Linked DNA regions of Homo sapiens. The protein of the gene in region 1 purifies or fractionates together with the protein of each later gene. This does not show direct contact. Each region holds a gene or a part of one and is shown in the gene's direction. Other genes may lie near its edges.

Region 1 (7,840 bases):
TTGTTCAGATAGCCTATCAACTTGGCATCTGTGTTGCGGTTGTCACTTGGTAACAAGATAAGTACTTCGACAGAGGTGTTACACTCCCTAACAAAGCTGACTTCATGTGCAGACTTTCTCACACTCATAGCTGGCCCAGGGCCACTTCTTAAAATAGGTGAGGTTTGTTTTCTTTGCCCTGTCTCTCGGGACCTTGCCTCCCGGTGGCCTAAGCCTATGCTTATTCAAAGCCTTCTCATTCTCCTATCCTCGTCACACACCCCGAAACTCCTTCCTGGACCACCCCTTTCTCTGTAAAACCCGCTTCACAGGAATTTAGATACATGTAATATTTCTCCCAAAGCCGTTAACAAACAAAGTGTTGTTGCTAATTTATTCTCTGATAAAGAGATTTCAAAAAGTGTATATTGGAGAATGTTTTAGCCAAGATGTCCCAAATTCACACCATGGAGGTGACTGCCTTCACCTCCATTTGGTTCGGCTCACAGCAACAACTACTTAAATTTCTGGAATAAATCATGCTATCTAACTACTAAGGCTAATTAATACTAATGATCTTTGCTATAAATTAACATAGTTTCAATATGTCTAACTGGAAGTCATTAAAAATAAGGTTATTATATAGAATTTTATATTAAAATAGGACTTTCTTTTGACCTACATTCATATCATGTTTGAGATAATTTCAGTGGTGATATTACTGCTGATACAGAAATGATGCATTTTCCTAATTTGTACATTCCCCATATATCCACAAATCATGTAAAATAGGTAATTATGGAAGTATCACTGTTTGCTCTTCAAAGTGAAGAGGATAGAAATGCATTACAATGTGCCAAACATGAGTAAGTCATTCAGCAAACACTAAGTGAACACCTAATATGAGCCAAATGCCTGTCCTAGCCACTGGGGAAAACCATTATAGTCTTGGAGTTCATGGTTGTTACCATCCAGCAGGGAAGATAGGCACTGAAGAGTAAACTACACAGGTTATGCAATCACAGTTGGTTAGATGTTTCAAAGAAAAAGCACAGTGTATGCAAGTCTCAGATTAGATATTAGAACTTTATTACTTATAAAGTTATTGTCTTCTTTTGGAAATTATTTCTCCTTTATATATGATTCATTGTAGTGATAGTCAGGAGAGAAAAAACACCTCAATACAGAAACTTTGGTAAATTATTTCTGATTTTAAAAGTAATGCATGCCTATTATGGAAAATGTGGGACTTTTTTAAGGTACAAAGAAAGACAATGGTAAATCTATAAAGTTACCACTTAGACATAAATCCTGTTTATGTTTTGAAGAAATATTATGTTAAGTAATATTTCTTCTGCATGTATTGTATTTATATAATTAATATCATACTGTCCATATAATTTTATTTCCTTTCATTTCCCCCTTATGATTATCTTGTATACATTTTCCTAGAAAATAAGACACTTTCTGTTTCATTAATCTCATATTCCGTAGGAGTGACCTGCTCTGCAATTGTTGCCTGTATTATTTCAGGTTATTTGAGAAAGCTTAATCTGATGTATTTTCTATTGGTAAGGAACACTCTTTAGTGACTGTGCTTTTTTTCTAGTTGACCTACTGGCTGGGTGACTGCTATAGTCTCCTAATACATTTCTCACCCTTTAGATTCTTTCTCTTCTGAATTTTCAGATTTTTCTTCATAAAACACCACTTTTTACAAGTCACTTCCCTTCTCCAGAGTTTACAGTAGACTGCCTTTAGCTTAGATCCCAACTCAGCCTGAGATCAAAGGCTCCTCTATAAGATCTGTTCCTTTTCTCCTTTCCTCCTCTATAAGATCTGTTCCTTTTCTCCTTTCCTCCTCTATAACACCAACTCGGATCCAGACAGACCTCAGGAAGCTATTCGATGATCTTTGCTTCCCACTTCTATAATATTAGTGCCTTCCTCTCTCTATTGTCTATTTTTCATTTATCTCAGCTCTTTGCTCAAGACCCTAACACACATTATCAATCGTTTCCCTTCTTTCTATGATACTTACTATTAGCACCACTCAATTTGGGTTTAAGTTACATATTATCTTTTACAAGTCTCTCTAGTTGTTTGAGGTGTGAAAGTCTAGTCTTCTTATACTAGAGCTCATAAATTGCTCTAATCTAGGCAGAAAGGCAGCTCCCAAACCGGACACTAAGAGTCACCCTATTATATATCAGCTAATATTATGCGGCACTCACTACCAACGAGAATCTGCTAAGGACTTGGCAGGCATCATCTCGTTGATTATTCACAGCAGCCTGTATTATTTAGAATGCTTTTGGCTGCAAATGACAGAGAACCCATAGCGTCGAATGCTGCTTAAACAATACAGACTTGTTTATTATAATATCTCAGCAACAGCAAGAACAAAAACTAGAGGTAGGTGGTTTCTAGCACTGGCCAATGTCAGAGCTCTTGTTTGGGATCGCTGCAAATTTCTCAGTCTTCCTATATGGTTGAAATATGACTGTGACTGTGGCATCTTCTGGCATCACATCCTCGCACAACCATGCTCAAAGTTGGGTAGGAAGGGATGGTATAGATATGGAGGTTCTTTCTTCATGCTTTCTTCTGTTAAGGAAAGAAAACCTTTTGCCAAACATTCCCCAGTGGATTTCTCCCAAAACGCTTTGTCCAGAATTGGGTTTATATGTCCACCCATTTCCAACCCACCCCCACCCTGCCCAACACACACACACCCCCTACAAGACTGGCAGCTAGGCTTTCCTTTCCTGAGATCAAGGGCTCTCTGAATAATACCCGAAGAAAATTAGGAAGAAGGGTAGCAGAAAGGCATTGATTGGGGTAGGCAATCAACAGTACCAGCTGTATAGAATTATTAGAAAATTAGAAGTTAGAGTAGTTGAGAAATACGTGCAAGATTATACAACTAGTAAATGGCAAAAAGAAGATTCTGAGTCTGAGACTTTTCTGAGTCTCTCAGTATTCATATCCTTGTTCACCACAGTATAGGGCCTCTCTAGAGAGTTTTAGCATGTTACTCCACCCATTAAAAATATTTGGTAAGAATTTGCTTGATGCTCACCACTGTTCTTGCTGCTCAAGGGAAACCAAGTATATATTTGTGGATAGATCCTAACTCAGATGATACTGTCAGAATATATAAGATTCCTATACCACATCCTGAACTCTGAAAGTTGCAGTTCTACGTAGAAGTTCACTGAGGGTTGTAAGAGTCAGAATGGACTCCATGGAAGTTATGGGGTGTGAATCAAACCTCACAGGTGAGTCAGTGGGGAGAAAGAAGCATGACATTCCTCTTGAGAATAACTGGAATGAAAATAATACGGTGAGAAAGAGTAGCACCTGAAAAGTGAGTGAAGGAAAGGGTGGTGGAAGTTCTAGGTACATTGATATCTGTCCCAACTTGTTGAGCTGTCAATGTGTGGTTAAAAAACAGTTAAACAGGCCAGGCCCGGTGGCTCACACCTGTAATCCCAGCACTTTGGGAGGCCGAGGTGGGCGGATTGCCTGAGGTCAGGAGTTTGAGACCAGCCTGGCCAACATGGTGAAACCCCGTCTCTACTAAAAATACCAAAAATTAGCCAGTCGTAGTGGTGGGCACCTGTAATCCCAGCTATTCAGGAGGCTGAGGCAGGAGGATCACTTGAACCCAAGAGGCGGGAGTTGCAGTGAGCAGAGATCACGCCATTGCACCCCAGCCTGGGCAACAAGAGTGAAACTCGATCTCAAAAAAACAAAAACAAAAACAAAAAACAGTTAAACAGATGGTTGGTCACATAGACATTACCAGAGGGGTCTTCTTGGACAGAGGCTGAAAAGAAAGAAGGGACTTAGCTCACCACCAGACTCCTCAGCACTCACGGGAGAAGAGCACTAAGGACAAAGGGGCACTTAACACGTGTAAAAGGGCAATGGCTCCTAATAAAGGATAAGATCTGTTTTCTTTTTATTTTATTTTTTGTTTTTGAGATGGAGTCTCACTCTGTCACCCAGGCTGGAGTGCAGTGGCACAGTCTCAGCTCAATGCAACCTCCACCTCCCAGGTTCAAGTGATTCTTCTGCCTCAGCCTCTCAAGTAGCTGGAACTGGAGATGTGTGCCACCACGTGCAGCTAATTTTTGTATTTTTAGTAGTGACAGGGTTTCACCATGCTGGCCAGGCTGGTCTCAAACTCCTGACCTCAAGTGATCCTCCCGCCTCGGCCTCCCAAAGTGCTGGGATTACATGCATGAGCCACCACACCCGGCCATAAGATCTATTTTATAATCAAGAGAAGATGAAAAATTCTTCTTGTGTCAGGATATTAGGGTAGAATCCGAGTTATTTCGAAAATTACAGCTTGAGACAATGTAAGACAGATTAAAATAGAGAATTTCTAAGACAGAAAATGGATTTTTTCTTCCCTCCCATGCCCTAAGCATCGCTTGGGTCTCCCTAGGCTCAAAAGAGAGAGTAAATCTCATTATATTTATATATTGGAAGAAGCCCACAGGCCATGGTTGTCCAAAGCTAGAAGAAGTATTGTAGAATTTGATACTATCCTTGAGCACAAGTATAGTGGGGGAAATCTTGAAACTGGGGCTGACAGATTTTAGCTAACTTTCACAGGCATGTGTAGATATTGACAAATTCTTAAGTTTCAGAGTGACCTCATCCTCCCCCAAAATTTCTTAAACCATGCCTTTACAAACAAGTATTTCTATTCTAATGATGTCTTCCTGAGTAAAATGTTGAATCACTCAAAGGACACAGATCAAAAGACAGAGGGAGAAAAAAAAATGCCATGTGGGAGGGGCAAAGCTGTATAAAACCAGTCATTACCATGTCTGAACTGTAACAACTCTCAGAGGAGCATTGCCCGTCAGACAGCAACTCAGAGAATAACCAGAGAACAACCAGGTATTTCAATGATTTCCATGCCATGTCTATGGGAAATAGGGTTTCATGTTTTCTCTTCCCTCATGCTGGTATTAATAGATTGAAAATTTGGATGTGGGGTGTTTGTAGAGGGCGAGTAAAATTTAAGTGGTGTTTTCTTGTTTAGTTGTTGAATTGAAAATATTTTATTTCAAGATTTGAATTAAATTTATAAGGTTTAATTTTGAATCTCAGAAGCCAACAAATACCTTTGTAGCATTAACCAAAACAAAATGTACATTCAGATTGTGATGCCAATTTTATTGAACAGATTAGATTATATATGTTCTCTACTAGCTACTGTTTTGACACTAAATTTGATGGAAACAACTAGATACATTAAAATATTTTCATTTAAGCAATTGAATGTAATCTCTACATTGTATATAAATAATAGGAAAAGAAGACTTCATTTGCACCTTAAATGAAAAAGCAGGAACTGCAAAAATTAAGTAGCAATTTGGGCTGGGTCAATCTAGTACAACAATATGTTTATTGAGTTTAGTTCAATAATGGGTCAATTTAGTGAAAGAGAATAATCAGCCAAAGTAGTTGCAGGGTTGACTGAAGTATGGTTCAGTAAATAACTTAATATCCCATAAAAAGATACTTATTCATTATGAAAGCCATCAACTAGGAGAAATTGCTTTTAATTCTGTTGGGGGAGATGTAGCAGTATTTGATGAGATATTCCCTTGAAACTGTTGTTTTCTCTTAGTTCTCATTAATTTTTGTGGTCAATTTCAAAATATTTCCACTGTCTAATTGTAAACAAAATTTGTTTTAAATGCTACAGCAAACTCCAATCTAACATCCAGGGCCAACAGGGTGAGAGACAATGGCCGTGTGCCTGGTGACTCCTCCCAAATTCTTCCTTCCCTGTGCCAAGTTTCAGTGGTGCATTTGTCAACTTGTGTTGCAGGAACCAACACACACACCACCAGGAAGCCCAACCCTGCATATTACTCCCATTAATTCATCCCAGTAATACTATTAAACCTTAATTAAGAGCATACTATTTGGAAGTTAATGAGATCATATAAATTACTATAATGTTAAAAAATTCACAACAGGTATACCTGTTCCAGGAGGCTGTGGTATTTCACAATACCCCATGACTTCAATTTTGCCTTGTTTTGAAAGATTTTCATTCAAACATAAAGTATGGCCTTATCTGAGAGTCAGGAAACACTGCATATGGGTGCCTTCATAGATTTCTAAAATTATGAAACTCTCAGACCTTATTTGAAAAGTTTGTAGGAAAGCATTAGACTTGGAATCAGAAGTCTGTGATCCAGTCTAGGCTTCTGAAATGGACCAGCTGTGCAATCTCTATTTTCATATTTTCATTCATATTACAGAAATTACTAAGCCTTACTGGACAGGTAATTATGCAAATTGAAAAGGGAGCTGAAGGAATTTGGTGACTGCCATACAGACATCAAATATTATTTTTACATTAAATGTAATTAATTACACCTTATTTAAAAATATAATTGAAACTATCTTTTTTGAAAGAAGTAAATGCATCCAGGAAAATTTGCTTCTGTTCTTATTAATTTTTTTCTTTATCAAGTTACCTTAAATTCTAACTTAGTATTAACAGAACTTTCTGTTAGTTTGTCTTTAGAGTTAAATATTTTTACTATCAAAGTTACTATGTGGATTGTTACAAAGAATCCGGTATGAATTGTTACAAAGAATCACGTATTTAGGTATGGGAGAAGTCTAAATTTATGTTTGTGGCTCTGATCTCTTATTTACATTTCTCACATGGGGATCGAGAAATATTTTATTTGTGTTATTAATACTCAGTTTGTTTCCAAAAGATATTGAGATAATTAATTTTAAAAATCTGTACAATAAATCTATTTAATTATGAAGACAATTTTAAGAGGAAGAGGAACAAATTTTTGAGCCATCCAATGTAATCTAGTATCTATGATGAAGCAAGAGAAAAAAAAAGTGACTTTTTGTTTTTACTTCCTAATAAGCCTTCTAGTAGAATTACAGGTTTACTACTTTTTTCTTTTGACTTCCTCTTTCTAGCATTTCTTGCACTACAACTTGCTTAAGCTCTTACACTTCATAGTGAAGCTATGCACCACCGAGTGAAGCGATGTGGAACATTGGAAAGAGTGGGCTTCCTTAGACAGACCTGGGCTTGAATCCCTGCTCCACTACCTACCAGCTGTGTGACCTTATACAAGTTACTTAATGTTTCTGAGCATCAGGATATAATCTATAAAATAGGGAGAATCACCTCTACCTCATACAGATTCTGCAAAGATTAAACGAGGAGAGGAGGTGAGAGAGTTTTAGGGATACGTTTTATTTAATTTACTATTTTTGTCTTGATAAAATAGTCTGGTTGTATTCCAAATGAGACATTTTAATACAAATAAATTCCAATCACTTTCTTAAAAAAAAAGAGTTCATGAATCAAGGGTTCACGCAAGAAAGAAGCGACCAATGGTCCTTGTTGGAGAGCAATGCTGTGTGAGACCACAGGTGTACACAGCCAAGACCAGAGCCAGAGGACATGCTTCCTCCTGGGTACTTCCAGCCCCTCCCCAGTTCGGGGAAGGCACTGTCATAAGAAGGTTTCCTGAGGGATGATCAGTATCAGCATTGTTTGGTATATTTACATATTTTGATAATTATCGGGTATGTTGCAAGCTATGATGAAAGCAAAACATACAGCTGGAAAGACGATCATTGGTCAGGACCAAAAAACACACACACCTTGGGTGTGAGCATGCATTCAGTTGCCTGCAGAGCCTGAGGTCAGGGAAGGTCTCAGATGGTTCATACCTTGGTGTATACATGAGTTTCATAGGCCTGGGATTAAGGATTATCCCTGCAATCTTGCCTGGCATTGACTTTCTACCTGGTGGGGTGGCAGAAGAAGGGGGTCTTCTAG
Region 2 (6,043 bases), on another chromosome or scaffold:
TTTTATTTCCTCTCATTTCACTCCTTTCATTGTTTGCTATATCCTAAAATATGTGAAGTGAGAGAAAAAATATCATTTCTTCTCATTAAATCTCCTGCATTAAATCTAAGAATCCTTTAAAATAATCACACCTGATAAGTGTTTTATGCATTTCCCTCCCTGGAGTGTTATCATCCATCAAGCCAGTATCATCATCCACCTGCTTATTCCTTGGGACTAATGAGAGCCAAGTTAAATAGCAAATGACTTCTCACCCCTTCCTAGTCCTCATGCCTGAGGAATAAGGGCGACATTAATGGGAGCGGGAGAGTGGTGGCTTTGGTTGAGATGCACGTTCACAGACTAGAAAAGTGCCTCACCTCCATGGTGTATATGTGCCACCTTTTCTTAATCCAGTCTATCATTGTTGGACATTTGGGTTGGTTCCAAGTCTTTGCTATTGTGAATAGTGCCGCAATAAACATAAGTGTGCATGTGTCTTTATAGCAGCATGATTTATAATCCTTTGGGTATATACCCAGTAATGGGATGGCTGGGTCAAATGGTATTTCTAGTTCTAGATCCCTGAGGAATCTCCACACTGACTTCCACAATGGTTGAACTAGTTCACAGTCCCACCAACAGTGTAAAAGTGTTCTTATTTCTCCACATCCTCTCCAGCACCTGTTGTTTCCTGACTTTTTAATGATTGCCATTCTAACTGGTGTGAGATGGTATCTCATAGTGGTTTTGATTTGCATTTCTCTGATGGCCAGTGATGGTGAGCATTTTTTCATGTGTTTCTTGGCTGCATAAATGTCTTCTTTTGAGAAGTGTCTGTTCAATACTATGCAGCCATAAAAAATGATGAGTTCATGTCCTTTGTAGGGACATGGATGAAATTGGAAATCATCATTCTCAGTAAACTATCTCAAGGACAAAAAACCAAACACCACATGTTCTCACTCACAGGTGGGAATTGAACAATGAGAACACATGGACACAGGAAGGGGAACATCACACTCTGGGGACTGTTGTGGGGTGGAGGGAGGAGGGAGGGATAGCATTAGGAGATATACCTAATGCTAAATGACGAGTTAATGGGTGCAGCACACCAGCATGGCACATGTATACATATGTAACTAACCTGCACATTGTGCACATGTACCCTAAAACTTAAAGTATAATAATAATGAAATAAAATTAAAAAAAAAAAAGAAAAGTGCCTCACCTCCCTGTGAGGCTTGATGAATATTGTGGCCAGTGAGTGGAAAATGATTCTTGTCGAATAGACAGAGTATTCCCACCCCAGGAATGGATTAATAGAAGACACAATTTGAGCACTTCTCAGAATTATCTAGTATGCCTGAGTAGAGACTCACATGGGTGGAATCTGTGTTGTCTCATCAGAGGGAATAAAAAGACAATGAGGTGGTAAATGTGAAAAAAGCAGCCTTTTAGAAAAACATTATTTTCAAATACCTTTATAAATCATCTAATTTATCTTCACATAATATAAAGAAAAAACTAATAAAAATTTTCGTATTTCACTTTACATAATATGTTCTCCCATATTTAGGGATCATACAATTGTATTGTCTTCAAAACACACACACACACACATACACACACACACACACACACACACACACCCCTTCCAAGAAAGCTGATCCTTCAGAAAATAAATCTTATTTTTAAGCACTTGGGTTTTCAGGCCAGAAAATTAATAAATCCTAAACCTGACCCATTTTTGTAACAGCTAAAAAGGAGAAGAAAAAGCTAGTTAAATTTTGTGTGGATCCATTTATCTCTTAAAATATGCCAAAGCAATTTGAGGTGGGGGTGGAAACAGGTATTTATCTCTCATGCGTGATTCTCTCTTTATATTTCTATCTGTTGGGAAAAGGGTAAAGAACTATTCTTGGTCATTATTGATGTATTGTGTTGCCACTTTGTATGGTGCCTGCTGTGCTTTATCCCGAGGCATAGCAGTAATCGTTACTATCTTGACTCTTTCCTTCATCACAAGAGAGTAAATATGAAGTCTGAATGTCGTTCCTCACCCCCAAATTGTTTAACTCTGCTTCCAAACTAGTTTAAGAAATGCAAAATGGGAAGAGCTAGCTTTTCTTAGATACATTTCTTCCTTTTTTATTCTTTCTTGGGAGACGTTAAGTATAAAAGGGAAAAAGTCAGTTCCTTCTTCTCTCTCTTTCTCTTTGGGTGACAGCAATGCTCACTTAGTAATTATAAACTGGAAATAGGAGAGTAGCTTGAGCAGGTTATGATATATCTGCCCAATGTGTTTCATTCCTTCAAACATAAACTTTGAGAGTAAAAGAGATTTTTATAATTTAAATGCCAACGACAGGAATGGCCTCATGTTTTAACTTTCAAATAATAAATGGGGAGTTGGTATTTGGGCAGAGTTTGCATTTTACTAATCCTATATACTTTGAGCTTAGTTTTTAGAATTGTGTCAAATACATCAACATATCAGGATTATAGTGCCAAAAATAGTTAAAGTGCCTTGGTCCTCCCTCTGTAGGCAGCAAATTGAAACTAACATGGGACCATGCCATCCTTCTAGCATAATGGAGAAGTCTGAACTGAGGAGTATCTTTGATGAAAGACATTTAGGACCCTAGAAACTAAATCTTGTCACCAAGACTTTATAGTAAAGTAGTAGCAAAATTATTTTTAAAAGACTTTCTTCCTTTTACTACCCATTTCCTCTCTTGGGAAAGCTGATGAGCAAATTATCCAAGACTCATTTCTTTATTAGGCAAAGTCAGAATATTTCCCCTCTGAAAATCTGAATTATGCCCTCATTCTTTTTCAAGAAATATCTCAAAGAGCAAATAGAATTAAACATGACACTTGATTGTCTGATTATTTGGCATGTATAAAATTATCATGTGGCTTAATGTGCCTTAAGTGAAAATTTAAACTTAGACCTGAAACCTTTACAGTTGGATGTAGCGTTGAGCTTTTGCATGTTTTCTGTATAATAAACCACTTTTGTTTTGTTTGTTTTGTCTTTTAACCTACACCTTTATCATTACTCTAACAGATTTAGGGCTTCTCTTTCTCTACAGCTAAGTAAGGGAATATGTGCAATTATGAGACATACAAAAAAGGAAAGGGAAAGGACTTTCTAAGTAGCAAATCTGTGCCATGAAGTAGATGTGGCGTGAAGATACAGAGCCTGAGGATAGTAATTTTCCCTGAGCCACGCACACAGGCTTTTATTTCATGCCTTTTCTCTTTCTGTGCCGTCACCTTTGAGAAAAACGATTGCACCTTCTCCAAGTCTGCCTTTTTAACAGCTACAGTTAAGTTGGCAAGACTTCCCCAGCTCTGAATATAGCCATTTGCCGACTCCGGCCTCTTTGCGAGACTGACTCAAATCTGTGATCTTCTGTTCAGCATACACATCAGCAAAGTGAGAAGATGAGCACTAAATATAGGCTCTATTAACTTTACTTTTAGATTTACTGCCTTCAAAAAGTGCCTATTCTGAGCAACATAAACGTTATTCCTTACATATGTATGTACACACGGTACCCAGAGTCGTACTGTGCAGCCTTCAAAAACATACCATCAGAAAGAGTAGGTGCTGAGATAAGGAAACTTTGCCAAATGAAAGAAAGTCACTCACTTCCAATATCCCCTCTCAAGCGGCTACCGTGAAACGGGCTGCAAACACATTCCCTGAGCATCCCTTGCTGATACAGCTTCTTTATATTTATATCCTACTGGATGGTAGCATATTGCTAAGGTTTCCTGTACTCTGCTTCAAGGGAATGTAAGCTTTATGGCATTGAAACATTTAGGGAAAAAAAAGATGTTTAAGAGAATTAATAGAGCCGTAGTCTGTATTAGGATGTGTGTCATATGTGTGTTCTATAAACTAAGCATCGGTGGGTTTAGAGTGTTAAAGTGTCAGCACATTCCTTCTCCTTTTGTCTCTCAGGCTAACATGAGAGAAAATAGAAAAGTCTTGGCTGTGGGGATTGGAAGCTCAGGGGGCCAAATGTCCTTGCCAGATCCTTAGAGCATTACTTTGACTCCTAAAAATAGTAGTGTATGTTATTTGATGGCTTTTGTTTCCATAGTTCCATCACTGACAAAACTGTCAATACTGTTGATGGAGCAGCAGCATAGCCTAGAGTGATGCATTCTTACCCAGAGGTGGCAATAGGAGAGGGTCCATGTAAATAGGACGAGGTAGACAGTGCATGATTGTAGGAGAAGGGTTGAAGGGAGGACATGATTCCAAAAAAGATCGTTCTCAATGTGTCGTCTGACTCAACCAGCTGGCAGATTACACTTGCCAAGTCGTTCCCTTTCCTTCTAAGTCAGTTGGCTCCATATTCACTTGAATATGCCTCTGTTTGGGCAAAGCAAGATACCTCCACTTAACCTTTATCCAAGGAAGCTCTTGGTGTCCTCTTGGTCATAAAGTTGTCTCCTACCTAACCCAGTTTTACCAAATGGAAGTAAAAGGGGACAAACTATGGAAGATGGACTCCATGCCATTGCAGTCAGCCACCATTCTCTTTTCCATATAAGGAGCCCCATTACATAAGCTACGGGTGAGGTTGGAACAGCTATGTTTCATAATTTCAAGAGTGTGACCACCCTGCTCTAGTCATCATCATTGGATGAATCCAGTTGACTCTTTGGCAAAAGGGTGATACTTTTCACTAAAAATGCCTACTCTTCCTGTTGATGTTCCTTTTCTGTTTTTACCTTGTCCAATTTCCACACTAGTCATTTTTTTTATTTTTTAGAGGATCAGATTTTAGCGCTGGAAAATGAGTTCAAAAATTTCAGTGTAATGTCATAAGGATGTTGGGATACAGAGATTTTTTTTTTCCTTGGAAACAAATGGACTGGGAAGAAACACAGCATGGCTTTGCTCTGAGTTTCAATCTGATGATTATGACCATGGAAGATAGTCTTATGTAAAGGTTAAATGGTGTTTACAAGTGGATAGATAAGGCGGAGATGGTGAGAAGCCGGGTTTTCTCTATGCTAAATGTGTCTACTAAGAGCAGCACTTCCTACTAGCTAAGCACAATCATAGCCCCACCGTGATGAGCTGCTAGTCTGAATAACATTCCCTGACTTAGGGAAAGGCACACAAAAACATATAAAGAATATGTCTATTTTCATATGTGTGATACTGACAGAGCCATGGTATTCCTAAAATATAGGTTTCTCTTTTTTCTTGTATTCTTAGCAAATTGCATTTATTCACTACATTACAAACCATCACTGATGTATCCAAAATAGCACACATAGTTCAGTATGAAAATAAGAGAATAAAATCTGTTATAAGCAAGTGATTTAGGTATTTTCTTTTGTGTTTATGCATTATCTGACTATATTAAAACCTGTTTTTCTATTTACCTTCTATCAGTTTTCTCTACCAATTATGTTTTTTCAATGCTCTATAAGAATGAATATGGAAATTATATTTCTTTTTTCTGTAAAAGAGTTGCAACTACTTTATTATATTTAGAAATCCAATAAACTTCTTATTACATTTACTTGCCTATGTGTGGAATTCTTTTTGAGTTGGATAATCTCTGTTTCCTTTTCTTCTAACCCCCTTTACTGTGTGACTCATTTTTTACATCATTTGCTTTCCATATGGTCTTCTGAGAAACGGAATATCTCTCATAGCAAATATGGTGCCACAAGAGTATGAAAGCACCCACTCTCTTCCACTGTTAGCACAGAAGAACTTAAGGTCAGAGGTGTTCTAAAATTATTTGACCACTCTGTGTCTTGACCTTGCAAAGACATTTTCATTTTTAAAGCTGGATCCAAGTAAATGGGTCCCTTAGGGTGGGGTTGGGGTTCTCCATTTTCATCACAAACAAGTGGCTGACTTGTTCATACTTTTATTCCATCTGTATTACGCATGCTTTTCAAACATTGAGAATTTCCTCTGTACTAGGCATCTTGAGCAATACAGCTATCAATGACATATAGTTCCTTTCAATGAGTTTATAGTCTAGTTAAGCTGATAGATATGGATACAAATACCTAT

What was found.
Region 2: the proteins of SERPINB2 (region 1) and LPP purify together in Homo sapiens (affinity purification with mass spectrometry; 2 studies listed by BioGRID and IntAct, with this or other methods). This does not show direct contact.

The regions. Positions count from the first base shown.
Region 1 is NC_000018.10:63,882,872-63,890,711, forward strand, and holds the start of SERPINB2 (plasminogen activator inhibitor 2), read left to right. Parts: upstream 1-4,833; 5' UTR 4,834-4,899; exon of another isoform or gene 4,900-7,840. UniProt on the Homo sapiens protein: Inhibits urokinase-type plasminogen activator. The monocyte derived PAI-2 is distinct from the endothelial cell-derived PAI-1.
Region 2 is NC_000003.12:188,885,135-188,891,177, forward strand, and holds the end of LPP (lipoma-preferred partner), read left to right. Parts: 3' UTR 1-5,537; downstream 5,538-6,043. UniProt on the Homo sapiens protein: May play a structural role at sites of cell adhesion in maintaining cell shape and motility. In addition to these structural functions, it may also be implicated in signaling events and activation of gene transcription.